Linked DNA regions of Homo sapiens. The protein of the gene in region 1 purifies or fractionates together with the protein of each later gene. This does not show direct contact. Each region holds a gene or a part of one and is shown in the gene's direction. Other genes may lie near its edges. The genes, in order: USP12, THUMPD3 and SDF4.

Region 1 (3,651 bases):
TGAAGTGTACATAATTTTTTCATTTGTCAAAATAACGTACCTGGGCAAATCTGCAATACCTTAATTGGGTTAAGTAACTGTTAAAAACAATTCTCTTCAGCTGTGTCTTATTTTAGATCACTAGTGTTGTGCTTACATGTGAAAATTAGTAAAACTTGTTTTTCATAAGTTAGTATTATAGCCTGAACCAAATGAGTGATTATGTTTAGATTGCAGTGAGTACATTTTCAAGGGTACCTCTTGAAATACCTGTTTTTAATTTGTCTATGAAATAATACATTTTCAGTATCACATAGTGTTTATTTTGCCTTTGAAGTAGTTTCAGACTTCAGGGCCTGGCACGGAGTACCTGCCTACCTGATATTTAATATTATACTTAATAAGTGTGAAATAACGGGAAAAGTGACAGAATACATGTAGAGAGGCTGTGTTTTGCAGTTGAGGTGGCTAATCCGGGTGGTCCGTCATGGGCATGCAGTAGTGGTCAGGACAGCCCCTGCTTTGGAGCTGGCACTACTTACTGTTAGCTCCATAAATGTTAGCTCTGCCTCTGATCATTATTGTCTCTTCCTGTTTGGGTTGTAGGAGTCATGGTTAGGAAGGCGTTGTTGGGAGGGGGACCAGACAACGGAGAAGTTGTTGGTGCAGGAGGTGGGTAGAGTTAGATCATGGGGTGGCACTGGCCTGGCTGCTTGCCCACCCTCGGTTACAAGGGCATGAGATTAGATCCATTAGAACATGGTGGTAATGAGGCCAAAGCTGGTAAAGGTAGGTGCTAGGAGAGTCCCACGGGCTTTTCTTCTGAGAAAGCCTGTGCCTAGCACAGCACCCTGAGCATGGTAAACTTTACTTGCTGAAGAAAGGCACAGGTGAAACTGGCTGTCTTTTCTTTTTTGTTTGCTCTGTTTTAATAACACGATTTTTAAAAACATAAATTAGAAAGGACATACATGGAAAATGTTTGCCTTTTCTTACTGCTCAGTCTCACTGGGATCCAGGTAAGGGTATGTGTGGTCAGTGCAATTTATCCTTACTACTGAAAAAAAGGAAAGCTGGGGCAAACCTCAGAGCCCATGCGTTGTTGGGAATGTGTGTGTGTGAAAGTCTCCTCTTCATATAACAAGAATATTATATTAAATAATGAAATTTCTTTTTCCTTCTCAAGAAATAGGGTGGATGTAGTTCTTTTATTAATAAAATATTTATTTGTAAATTAATATTTTATTAGTAAAATAGTACTTCTATGATAGGAGCATTCAAATGTGAGTTGCCATTGTTTTACTTATCTAATTTTGCTGTGTTAATTTAAGAAGGGAACAAAACTTAAGCTTCTTAAGCCTTTAAAAAAAATAAGAAAACCTCAAAAATAAGGAATCTTCTATTACATAAATGTTTGGTCAAAGGAATGTTTGAGCTTGGTGGAGAGAGAACATTTAGAAGAAGTATTAATAGAAGTTTTATTTAAGCCCACTCATCTTTTGAATTTGTCTAAAATACATTTTGGACATTAAAAATGATACATTCTCATAGAAAATCTGGAAAATATAAAAACTCCAAGAAAGCAAAAGGAAGGTCAATTTTTACCTCCCAGAGGATATGTTATTTATTTATTTATTTTATTTTTTTTTTGAGACGGAGTTTCACTCTTGTTGCCCAGGCTGGAGTGCAATGCTGCAATCTTGGCTCACCGCAACCTCCACCTCCCAGGTTCAAGTGATTCCCCTGCCTCAGCCTCCCGAGTAGCTGGGATTACAGGCATGTGCCACCACGCCCAGCTAATTTTTGTATTTTTAGTAGAGATGGGGTTTCTCCATGTTGGTCAGGCTGGCCAGAGCATATTTTATTTAACTTTTTAAAAAACTTGAGTTGTATTCCCTAGATATAGTTTTACACTGTTTACCCACGAATGATTATCATGTTATCATTATCATCATTCATGCCCATCCTAAAATTTGCCCAATTTTAGGATGAACATGAGTTTAATGTTATAAAATGATGAGGTGGTGAGATGAGCCCAATAAAGCATAGTGGTAGGGTACTAGGGCGTTGACAGGTTATATGTTTAATGATTATTAGAGGGTAAAGTGATATAGTTAGCAGAAATGGAATTTTATAAGAGGTGGTTTATTCTAATCTTAGGCACTTAGTTATCACAAAGATAAGACTTGTTATGATCTGAAATTTTTAATATGCTTGAAAACTCTAGTTTTAAATACCATATTCAATTATGTGGCATGTGTATAAATATTATGGTCTTATTTTATATCATATGGCTTTGCTTACCTTCTGGTGACTTTCTCTTTCCACCTTTTGCTAATAAGTGGCTAATAGGTCTCAAAGTAGGTTAATTATCTGCCCTACCATGATCCATGTTGGCCAGTTGCAGCGAGATGATGTCACATTTCTTGTTGCCTTATTTGATTCTAGACTTTTGACCAAGTCCCCCCAAACTGAGTCTGCCTCCTTTTTGTCATTTACCAAATTCCTTTCTTCCTGCCTTTAAACTCATATTTATTCTAGCTCTTCTGAAACTTTTATTGTCTCAGGAAGTATCTTTTAAGCATTTGTATACTTTGTATAATTCCTTTCCAGAAACCTTTTTAGATTTAAATAATCTAATTTTGTTTTGGTTTCTCTTTTAGCAGCTCTATTCCAGAAACTTAATATGGTATTTTGTTATGTATTTGACAGCATGGTATAATGAAAAGAGCAGTTGGACCAGAAGGTAAATTCTAGTCCAGATTTTGACATTTAGATGTGTATATATGGGAAAGTTTCTTAAAACTTCGAGTTAATTTTTCTCATCTGTGAAATAAAGGGATTGGACTAGATACTCTTTAATAGATATTCCTTATATGCTTGTCTCCTTCTAGGTCTAAAATTCTGATCCTTTAGTAGTTTATAAATGATTATTGGTATCATTTTCATCATTTTAGGAGCTCTTTTTTAAAAAATTATTATTATTTTTTTTGCTCTGTAGCCCATTTCTAGAACATCTTGGGAGTTCTAATTATGTTTTAGATAACATAAAAAGCATAGAATCAGACATAATTAAGCAAGAATTTCACTTAGTTCCCTAGTTTTTACAGTCTAAATACATTTTTCTTTCTTTAAAACTGGAGGTTACTGATACCACCATTTTCGTCACCAACAGCCTAATAATTCACAAAGCTATTTGCTAATTTTTGACACTTTTTTCTTTGCCAGTACCATTAAGGGATTTGAATTTTTTTGAGGTTCCATGTTTATTTCTTTAGTTATGAGTATGACCTTGGACAAGTTACTTCTCTGTACCTGTAAAGTGAGAGTAAAATAACATCTAGTTCATAGGGTTGTTGACTAGTACCTGGCCCATGGTAATCACTGTGTCATGTTGGCTGTTACTGCCCTTTAACATGATTTGCTCCCCTCCCTGTGGTAAAAAGTATTCATTGGCACTACTAATTAATCTGTTAGCTCAACATATACTAACCAAAATGGAAATTTGTTTTGTGAAATACAATTGTCAGTTCCTTTTCATTATAAGAAACGTTAGTTTATTAGTAGTATATACCCCTGAGAAAGCACTAATTTATTTTGAAATTGAGTGGATTAATTCATAATATGAAAGCTGAGAATGTAGATTGTCTTCTTTCTCTATTTTGAATAGTT
Region 2 (3,651 bases), on another chromosome or scaffold:
CGTATAGCTTGACGGTAATTTTATATGATTTTTAAAATAATTTATACATGAAACAAAGTTTGTGTACACTGAACCATCAGAAAGCAAAGGTGTCACTATCTCAGCTACCTGTGTGGCATCATGTTGGCACTTCAAAAAAATTTTAGGTTTTGGATTTTGGACTTTGAGATTAGGAATGTTCAACCTATATGTTGGAGATCCTGGCAGTATCATTGCTGGAATTGGCTGCGTATACTCCATTGTTTGGCTGTATAATAATTTAACCAGTCCCATTTTAGGGCATGAGGGTTTTTCACATTCTTTTGCTATTACAGTGGTGCAACAAATACACTATGTAAATTCTTGTACATATTCAAACTGAGTGTCATCTTTGTGTTTATCCCATTGATACTTATTGATAATGACAACTGTTTAGTCTTAGTTTTGTCATGCTCATACTTTTTGTTTTTTCTTAATTTGAAAAATCTTTACATTATGTCTTTACTTTTTTCATATGCCTGTGTTTTCTAATAGTTTGGAAGGTTTATGTGTGTGTGTTCTAGCTGTTACCTTTATAACTACAATTTGATATTATCTACCTTATCTACCATATATACACGGTATTTTTTGAATCCCTGCTAAAAGCAATGATGAAATTGGCATATTTATACTTTTTTCCTTTATTTTTCAGTTATTTTTCTTAGTGTTCACCCTTAAACTTTTAAATATACTTACATTTTATTTATCAGCTTTAACTTCTATCCTTTGACCTCTGGGTGTAAGAGATGAGGGTATCAGTATGCCCATTTACATGCCAGTTTGTAACATTTACCTTCTGCTTTATAATCACAATCCCTACACTTGTTTTCATTTTAGTGATATAATTAAATAGATTATAGGCACATTATTTGTCCTTTTGTTATAATTTGTATCTGTTGAATGGCATGAGTTCAGAAATGTTTGTCTTTCACCTTTATATTTGGCTGATAGTTTGGGTATAAAATTTGGAGTTAGGCTTTCTTTCCTTAAGAATATTGTAGTCAGTGTTCATTCTCTTTTGTAAAAGATTTATTTTTTTAGACAAGATCTTGCTCTGTTGTCTAAGCTGGAGTGCATTGGCGTGATCATAGCTCATTGGAGCCTTGACCTCCCAGGCTCAAGCAGTCCTCCCATCTCAGCTTCCTGAGTAGCTGGGACTACAGGCACGTGCCACCATGCCCAGTTAATTTTTGTATTTTTTTGTGGAGACAGAGTTTTGCCATGTTGCCCAGTCTGGTCTCAAACTCCTAAGTTCAAGTGATCCACTTGCTTCAGCTTCCTAAAGTGCTGGGATTACAGGCATGAGCCACCATATCCAGCCCAGACTTTTTTTCTTGTCATTATTTCCCAAACAATACAGTATAACAACTATTTCCATAGCATTTACATTGTATCAGGTATCATAGGTAAGATAGAGATGATTTAAGTTACTCTTGAGAGGATGTGTGTAGGTCATATGTAGACACTATACCATTTTATATGAGGGACTTTTGAGCATCTTTGGGTTTTGGTGTCTTTGGCGGTCCTGGAACCAGTGTCCCCCACGGATACCAACTGTCCATAAGCAAAGTAGAGGTTTATTTGTTTGATTATAGTGGTGAGAAATGAATGAATTTCTTTCTCTGTCCTTTACAGGAAGAAGTTCTAAAGGATTTTGAAGACTTGGCTGGAAAACTCCCATGGTCAAACCCCTTAAAAGTGTGGAAAATTAATGCCAGTTTTAAAAAGAAAAAAGCAAAGCGCAAAAAGATAAATCAGAATTCAAGTAAAGAGAAGATTAATAATGGACAAGAAGTCAAAATCGATCAGAGAAATGTTAAAAAAGAGTTCACTAGCCATGCTTTAGATTCTCATATCTTAGATTATTATGAAAATCCAGCCATCAAAGAGGATGTATCAACATTAATAGGTGATGATTTGGCATCTTGCAAAGATGAGACTGATGAAAGCTCAAAAGAAGAAACTGAGCCTCAAGTGCTGAAGTTTAGAGTCACATGCAACAGGGCAGGAGAGAAACATTGCTTTACCTCAAATGAGGCTGCAAGAGATTTTGGGGGTGCTGTTCAAGATTATTTTAAGTGGAAGGCCGACATGACCAACTTTGATGTGGAGGTAGGTATAGGCTCTGACTGTGGTGATTGAAGAATGCTGTCACAGATTTGTAGAATTTCCAGACTAACCCAATGTTATGCACAATTAAACTGAGGAAATAGTAGGGTGTGGTTAAGAAGAGCATAGGCTATGGAGACAGATTTAGATCCAAATTTTAACTCCACAACTGTATAACTTTGGACTAGATAGTCTCTGAGCCTCTGTTTCAAATGGAGCCAATAATATTATGTACCTTTAAGGTTATCCTGAAGGATAAATGAGGTACATTTAAAATATTTGGTGCAATACCTTGCATACACTAAGTGCTCCATAGATGGAAGCCATCAAGGTTGAGTTGTCTGTTTTCTTTTTCTTTTTCGAGACAGAGTCTTGCTCTGTCACCCAGGCTAGAGTGCAGTGGTACGATCTCAGCTCACTGCAGCCTCCACCTTCCTGGTTCAAGTGATTCTTGTGCTCAGCCTCCCAAGTAGCTGGGGCTACAGGCACATGCCACCACACCTGGCTAATTTTTGTATTTTTTAATAGACATGGGGTTTCACCCTGTTGGCCAGGCTGGTCTCAAACTCCTGTAGTGATCTGCCTGTCTTGGCCTCCCAAAGTGCTGGGATTATAGCTGCACCTGGCCTGATTTCTAATAGACTACTCTTTTACTATATTATATGGACTTTCATATTATAAAATTCAACCAGAATTAAAATAGTTATTTTGTTTTTGTGTGTCTTGGTTGCAGAGCTTTGCTACTGAAAAAATAAAATAAGGCTGGGCGCAGTGGCTCACGCCTGTAATCCCAGCACTTTGGGAGGGAGGCCGAGGCAGGTGGATCACTTGAGGTCAGGAATTTGAGACCAGCGTGGCCAATATGGTGAAACCCTGTCTCTACTAAAAATACAAAAATTGGCCCGTCATGATGGCACACTCCTGTGGTCCCAGCTACTGGGGAGGCTGAGGCAGGAGAATCACTTGAACCAGGGAGGTGGAGGTTGCAGTGAGCCAAGATCATGCCACTGCACTTCAGCGTGGGTGACAGAGCAAGACTCCATCTCCAAAAAAAAAAAAAGTGCATTTTTTAAACAAACCCTGACCTTCTCAAACCAGGACATCATTGCTAATACTCATCCTAGAGTCAGCTCTCCTCTTTCTTAAATTCTGCTAGATTTCCAAAGCCAGGTACCTCATTTTAGTATATTTACTTTCCTTGGTCTTAATCCTCTTTTATCTGGGTGATTGACATGTGAACCATAGGAACTAAAGTATTTAAGTCTCTGACACCTTAAAACATCTCTAGCAGCTGATATATTTACCAAAGAGTCAATTTCCGTTGCTTTTGGGACACTTGAATCTGGGGCAAGTCACTGATTCTAACTTTTTTGTGCATGTCAAATCAGGAGTCTAATTCCCCATTCCTTTTTTTCCTCATACACTGCCTTGCAAATGAATACGTGGCTCACACCTGTAATTCCAGTACTTTGGGAGGCCTTGGCAGGCAGATCGCTTGAGCCCAAGAATTTGAGACCAGCCTGG
Region 3 (3,651 bases), on another chromosome or scaffold:
CTGCTGAGGGAGGGGCGCGTGTGAGCGGCAGCCTGGCCTTCTTCCATGAGGATCTCTGCCCAGTGCTTCTGAGCCGTGCCTGCGGTGTGTGCACCCTCGAAGCTTGCCTGGCCCAGGTCCCAGAGGCCACACCTGCCTGACGAGGGCCTGCTTGCCACCTCATAACGTGGCCGCGGCTGCCCCTGAGCGGAGCATAGAGGCAAGGGGCCAGGGCACCCTACTCTCGGGGATGCCTCCGGCAAACGCACCAGCCGGGGTCTCAAGACCTCGCACCTCTGGAAGCCCTGCCTCCCAGTGCTGTTGCCCTGGGGGTTAAGTTTCCAACAGGTGAGCTCAGGACACGGGCGGCTGCAGCAGGGGTAGGAGCCTGTGGCTTCCACAAAGACATAATGGTGAAGCCGAGCTCTGAAGCTGGGACGGGAGTGACCTGTCCTGGGGCCTGTGGCCTCCTGACCTGGCCTGCGCTGGCCCCGTGTCCCCAGTCTGTGTCCCTATCCCCCAAGTCTGTGGTCTCTTCCATCCTTGCACACAATGTTAAGTCCCCACACGGTCTTCTTCCTAAATCTCACAACTTAAATTTATATGAAGGATTTTGTTTTGTCTTGTTTTGAGTCAGGGTCTCGGTATGCCGCCCAGGCTGGAGTGCAGTGGTGTGATCACAGTTCACTGCAACCTTCGCATTCCAGGTTCGGGAGGCCTCCCACCTCAGCCTCTTGAGTAGCTGAAACCACAGGTGCACGCCACCGCGCCTGGCGAATTTTCGTAATTGTTTTTGTAGAGGTGGGGTCTCCCTATGTTGCCCAAGCTGGTCTTGAACTTCTGGGCTTAAGTGATCCACCTGTCTTAGCCTCCCAAAGGGCTGGGATTATAGGTGTGGCCACTGCGTCCTGCCTATATGAAGGTTTTTGTGTAGCCATACCTGAAGCATCGAAAATAAAACATGGGCCGGGCCCAGTGGCCACACCTGTAATCCTAGCACGTTGGGAGGCTGAGGTGGGTGGATCATTTGAGGTCAGGAGTTTGAGACTAGCCTGCCCAACATGGTGAAACCGTATTTCTGTTAAAAATACAAAAATTAGCCAGGCGTGGTGGTGCACCCCTGTAATCCCAGCTACTCGGGAGGCTGAGGCAGTAGAATCGCTTGAACCCGGGAGGCGGAGGTTGCAGTGAGCAAAGATTGCGCCACCACACTCCAGCCTGGGTGACAGAGTGAGACTCCATCTCAAAAAATAAAATAAAACGTGAAGAGTGTGACTTTTGGAAGCTGTGGTTGGAGAGTGGGGTCTGGTGGTGATTCTGTGTGACAGAGGGGGAGGGTCCATGTGTTTCCCCGGGGAGGGGACCGTGGCATCCACCTTCCCCAGTGTCTCTGGCGTGGCCCGGCACCCCACAAGCCCCACGTCCCGGACGCTTTTCGCGTTGCCTGGTGGAGCCTGTCGCTGTTGGTGGCAGGTTCACGCAGCCATGGAGTCCTGGGCCGGCGGCATCCGTCTGGCTGTTCGGGGTCCTGGGGGCCCAGTCTGACGGCCACCTGCCCATTTGCTGTCTTGCAGGGTGGATGTGAACACTGACCGGAAGATCAGTGCCAAGGAGATGCAGCGCTGGATCATGGAGAAGACGGCCGAGCACTTCCAGGAGGCCATGGAGGAGAGCAAGACACACTTCCGCGCCGTGGACCCTGACGGGGACGGTACTGTGGCTGGGCCGGGGTGGGTGGGGCGGTGGGCGGGGCGGGCAGGGCCATGGGCCTTGCCTGGTGCCTGGAGGGCAGACAGGCCCTGTCTGAGGGACGGGCGGTGGGGAAGTGTCAGCCGGAGACCCCGAGGTGTGGTGGGGTGCACGGAAGCTGGGTTCATGATGCCAGAATCCTGGTGACAGAGGTGTGTGTGCCAAGCACTGGGCGTGGCCCATGGAGGGCGCCTCTTATGTCTTCGGGGCCTTCATCTGGTGGTGTCTATGCCTCTTGGTGGCCCCGAGGCACAGACGTTGCCGGCTGGCCTCACAGGTGAGGAAACGGGTGTGGGGTGCTGGCCGGGGCCCTGGGGCTCCAGACGCTGGCATCCTGCCGCTTCCAGCCTGGGCAGCAGAGCAAGACCCCATCTCAGTTGAGAAGGAAGTTCAGCTCAGTATCAGAGGCCCTGACAGGTGTGATCTGCTCTTCCAGGTCACGTGTCTTGGGACGAGTATAAGGTGAAGTTTTTGGCGAGTAAAGGCCATAGCGAGAAGGAGGTTGCCGACGCCATCAGGCTCAACGAGGAACTCAAAGTGGATGAGGAAAGTGAGTGCTCAGCCAGGCTCCCGCCACCGGTCTCAGGCATCCTGTGTGTGCGCGCGTGTGTTGTGTGTACATGAGTGTGCCGTGTGTGTCGTGTATGAGTGTGCCGTGCGTGTGCTCGTGAGTACGTGTGTGCGTGCCGTGTGTACGAGTGTGCTGTGCGCGTGCTCGTGAGTACGTGTGTGCATGTTGTGTGTACGTGTGCTGTGTGTGTGCTCGTGAGTACATGTGTATGCGTGTCGTGTGTACGAGTGCACTGTGCATGTGCTTGTACGTGTGTGCGTGTCGTGTGTACGAGTGCGCTGTGCGTGTGCTTGTGAGTACATCCAGGTAGCTGTTCATGTAGGCTCGTGAGTACATGCAGGTGAGTGCGCCCTCACACCCGCTGTGTGCACACGTGTTCGTCTTAACAGCATGGCCCAACCTGGTTGGTGGTGGCTGTCAGGAGGGAAGTGGGTGAAGCCGTTGCTGACCTAGGCGCCGCCCAGGAGTCCGGTGGGGAGCGTGTGAGCTGTGCCTGGGCAGCTTTCAGCTCTGCTGGTCACGGCACCTTCACGGCCGTTACTCAGTTAGGTCCTGCAGAGAATCTGAGGCTGTGAGTCTGGGTTGGGGCCTGCCCCGTACTCTGAAGGCCACGTGAGGCAGAGTTTCCTGGGGAGAGGGCACAGCCTGTGCCTGAGGGCCTGGCCCTGAGGCCTGGGTCTGCTGGAGACATCTGTGTGGCCGTCAGGTGGTCACCAGAGAGCGGTCAGGTCCCAGGGAGAGGCTCTTCCTTGGGTCTGGGGTGTGGCCGTTGGCCAGCAGGGCAGCCTCAGCCCTGGGCGGGTCCAAGCTGGTGCCTCTGCGTGAAGAGGGTGGGGCCGGGTGGGGCCCGGCACCCGGGCTAAGGCCAGGTGAGGGGAGAGCCGGGCCACCCTGCACGGGGCCAGGTCTGGGAGAGCCGTCCAGGCAGAAGCCCCTGCTGGCCCAGTTGTGAGGCACAGCTGAGCGGGTACCGTGGCGTTGCTGCCACCCTGGGGCTCCGTGTGCCCTTCCCGGTCATGCCCGTGGTCTGGTTTGGGGCTTTGAGGAGAACGTGCAGAGTCGCCTGCTCCGTCGCTGCCCGGCATCCTGGGGTGGGTTCTCTGCTGCCCTGCAGGGCGCCCGTGTCGCCCACGGGACTGGTCACGTGATACGGGGCTGCTCCTGGCAGGCTGGGTGTATCTTACACCTTTATTTTTTGTGCCTGCTTAACTTATCAGTAACACACATTTCCTCACCAGAGTCTCAAGGCAAACCACCTCTTCTTTCTTTTTTCATGAGACGGTCTCACTCTGCTACCCAGCCTGCAGTGCAGTGGTGCAGTCTCGGCTCCCTGCAGCTGTACCTTCCAGGGC

The links.
Region 2: the proteins of USP12 (region 1) and THUMPD3 purify together in Homo sapiens (co-immunoprecipitation; one large-scale study listed by IntAct). This does not show direct contact.
Region 3: the proteins of USP12 (region 1) and SDF4 purify together in Homo sapiens (affinity purification with mass spectrometry; one large-scale study listed by BioGRID and IntAct). This does not show direct contact.

What each region holds. Positions count from the first base shown.
Region 1 is NC_000013.11:27,165,241-27,168,891, reverse strand, and holds part of USP12 (ubiquitin carboxyl-terminal hydrolase 12), read left to right. Parts: intron 1-3,651. UniProt on the Homo sapiens protein: Deubiquitinating enzyme that plays various roles in the regulation of the immune response and inflammation.
Region 2 is NC_000003.12:9,369,407-9,373,057, forward strand, and holds part of THUMPD3 (tRNA (guanine(6)-N(2))-methyltransferase THUMP3), read left to right. Parts: intron 1-1,653; coding exon 1,654-2,130; intron 2,131-3,651. UniProt on the Homo sapiens protein: Catalytic subunit of the THUMPD3-TRM112 methyltransferase complex, that specifically mediates the S-adenosyl-L-methionine-dependent N(2)-methylation of guanosine nucleotide at position 6 (m2G6) in tRNAs.
Region 3 is NC_000001.11:1,221,871-1,225,521, reverse strand, and holds part of SDF4 (45 kDa calcium-binding protein isoform 2 precursor), read left to right. Parts: intron 1-1,553; coding exon 1,554-1,690; intron 1,691-2,164; coding exon 2,165-2,278; intron 2,279-3,651. UniProt on the Homo sapiens protein: May regulate calcium-dependent activities in the endoplasmic reticulum lumen or post-ER compartment. Isoform 5 may be involved in the exocytosis of zymogens by pancreatic acini.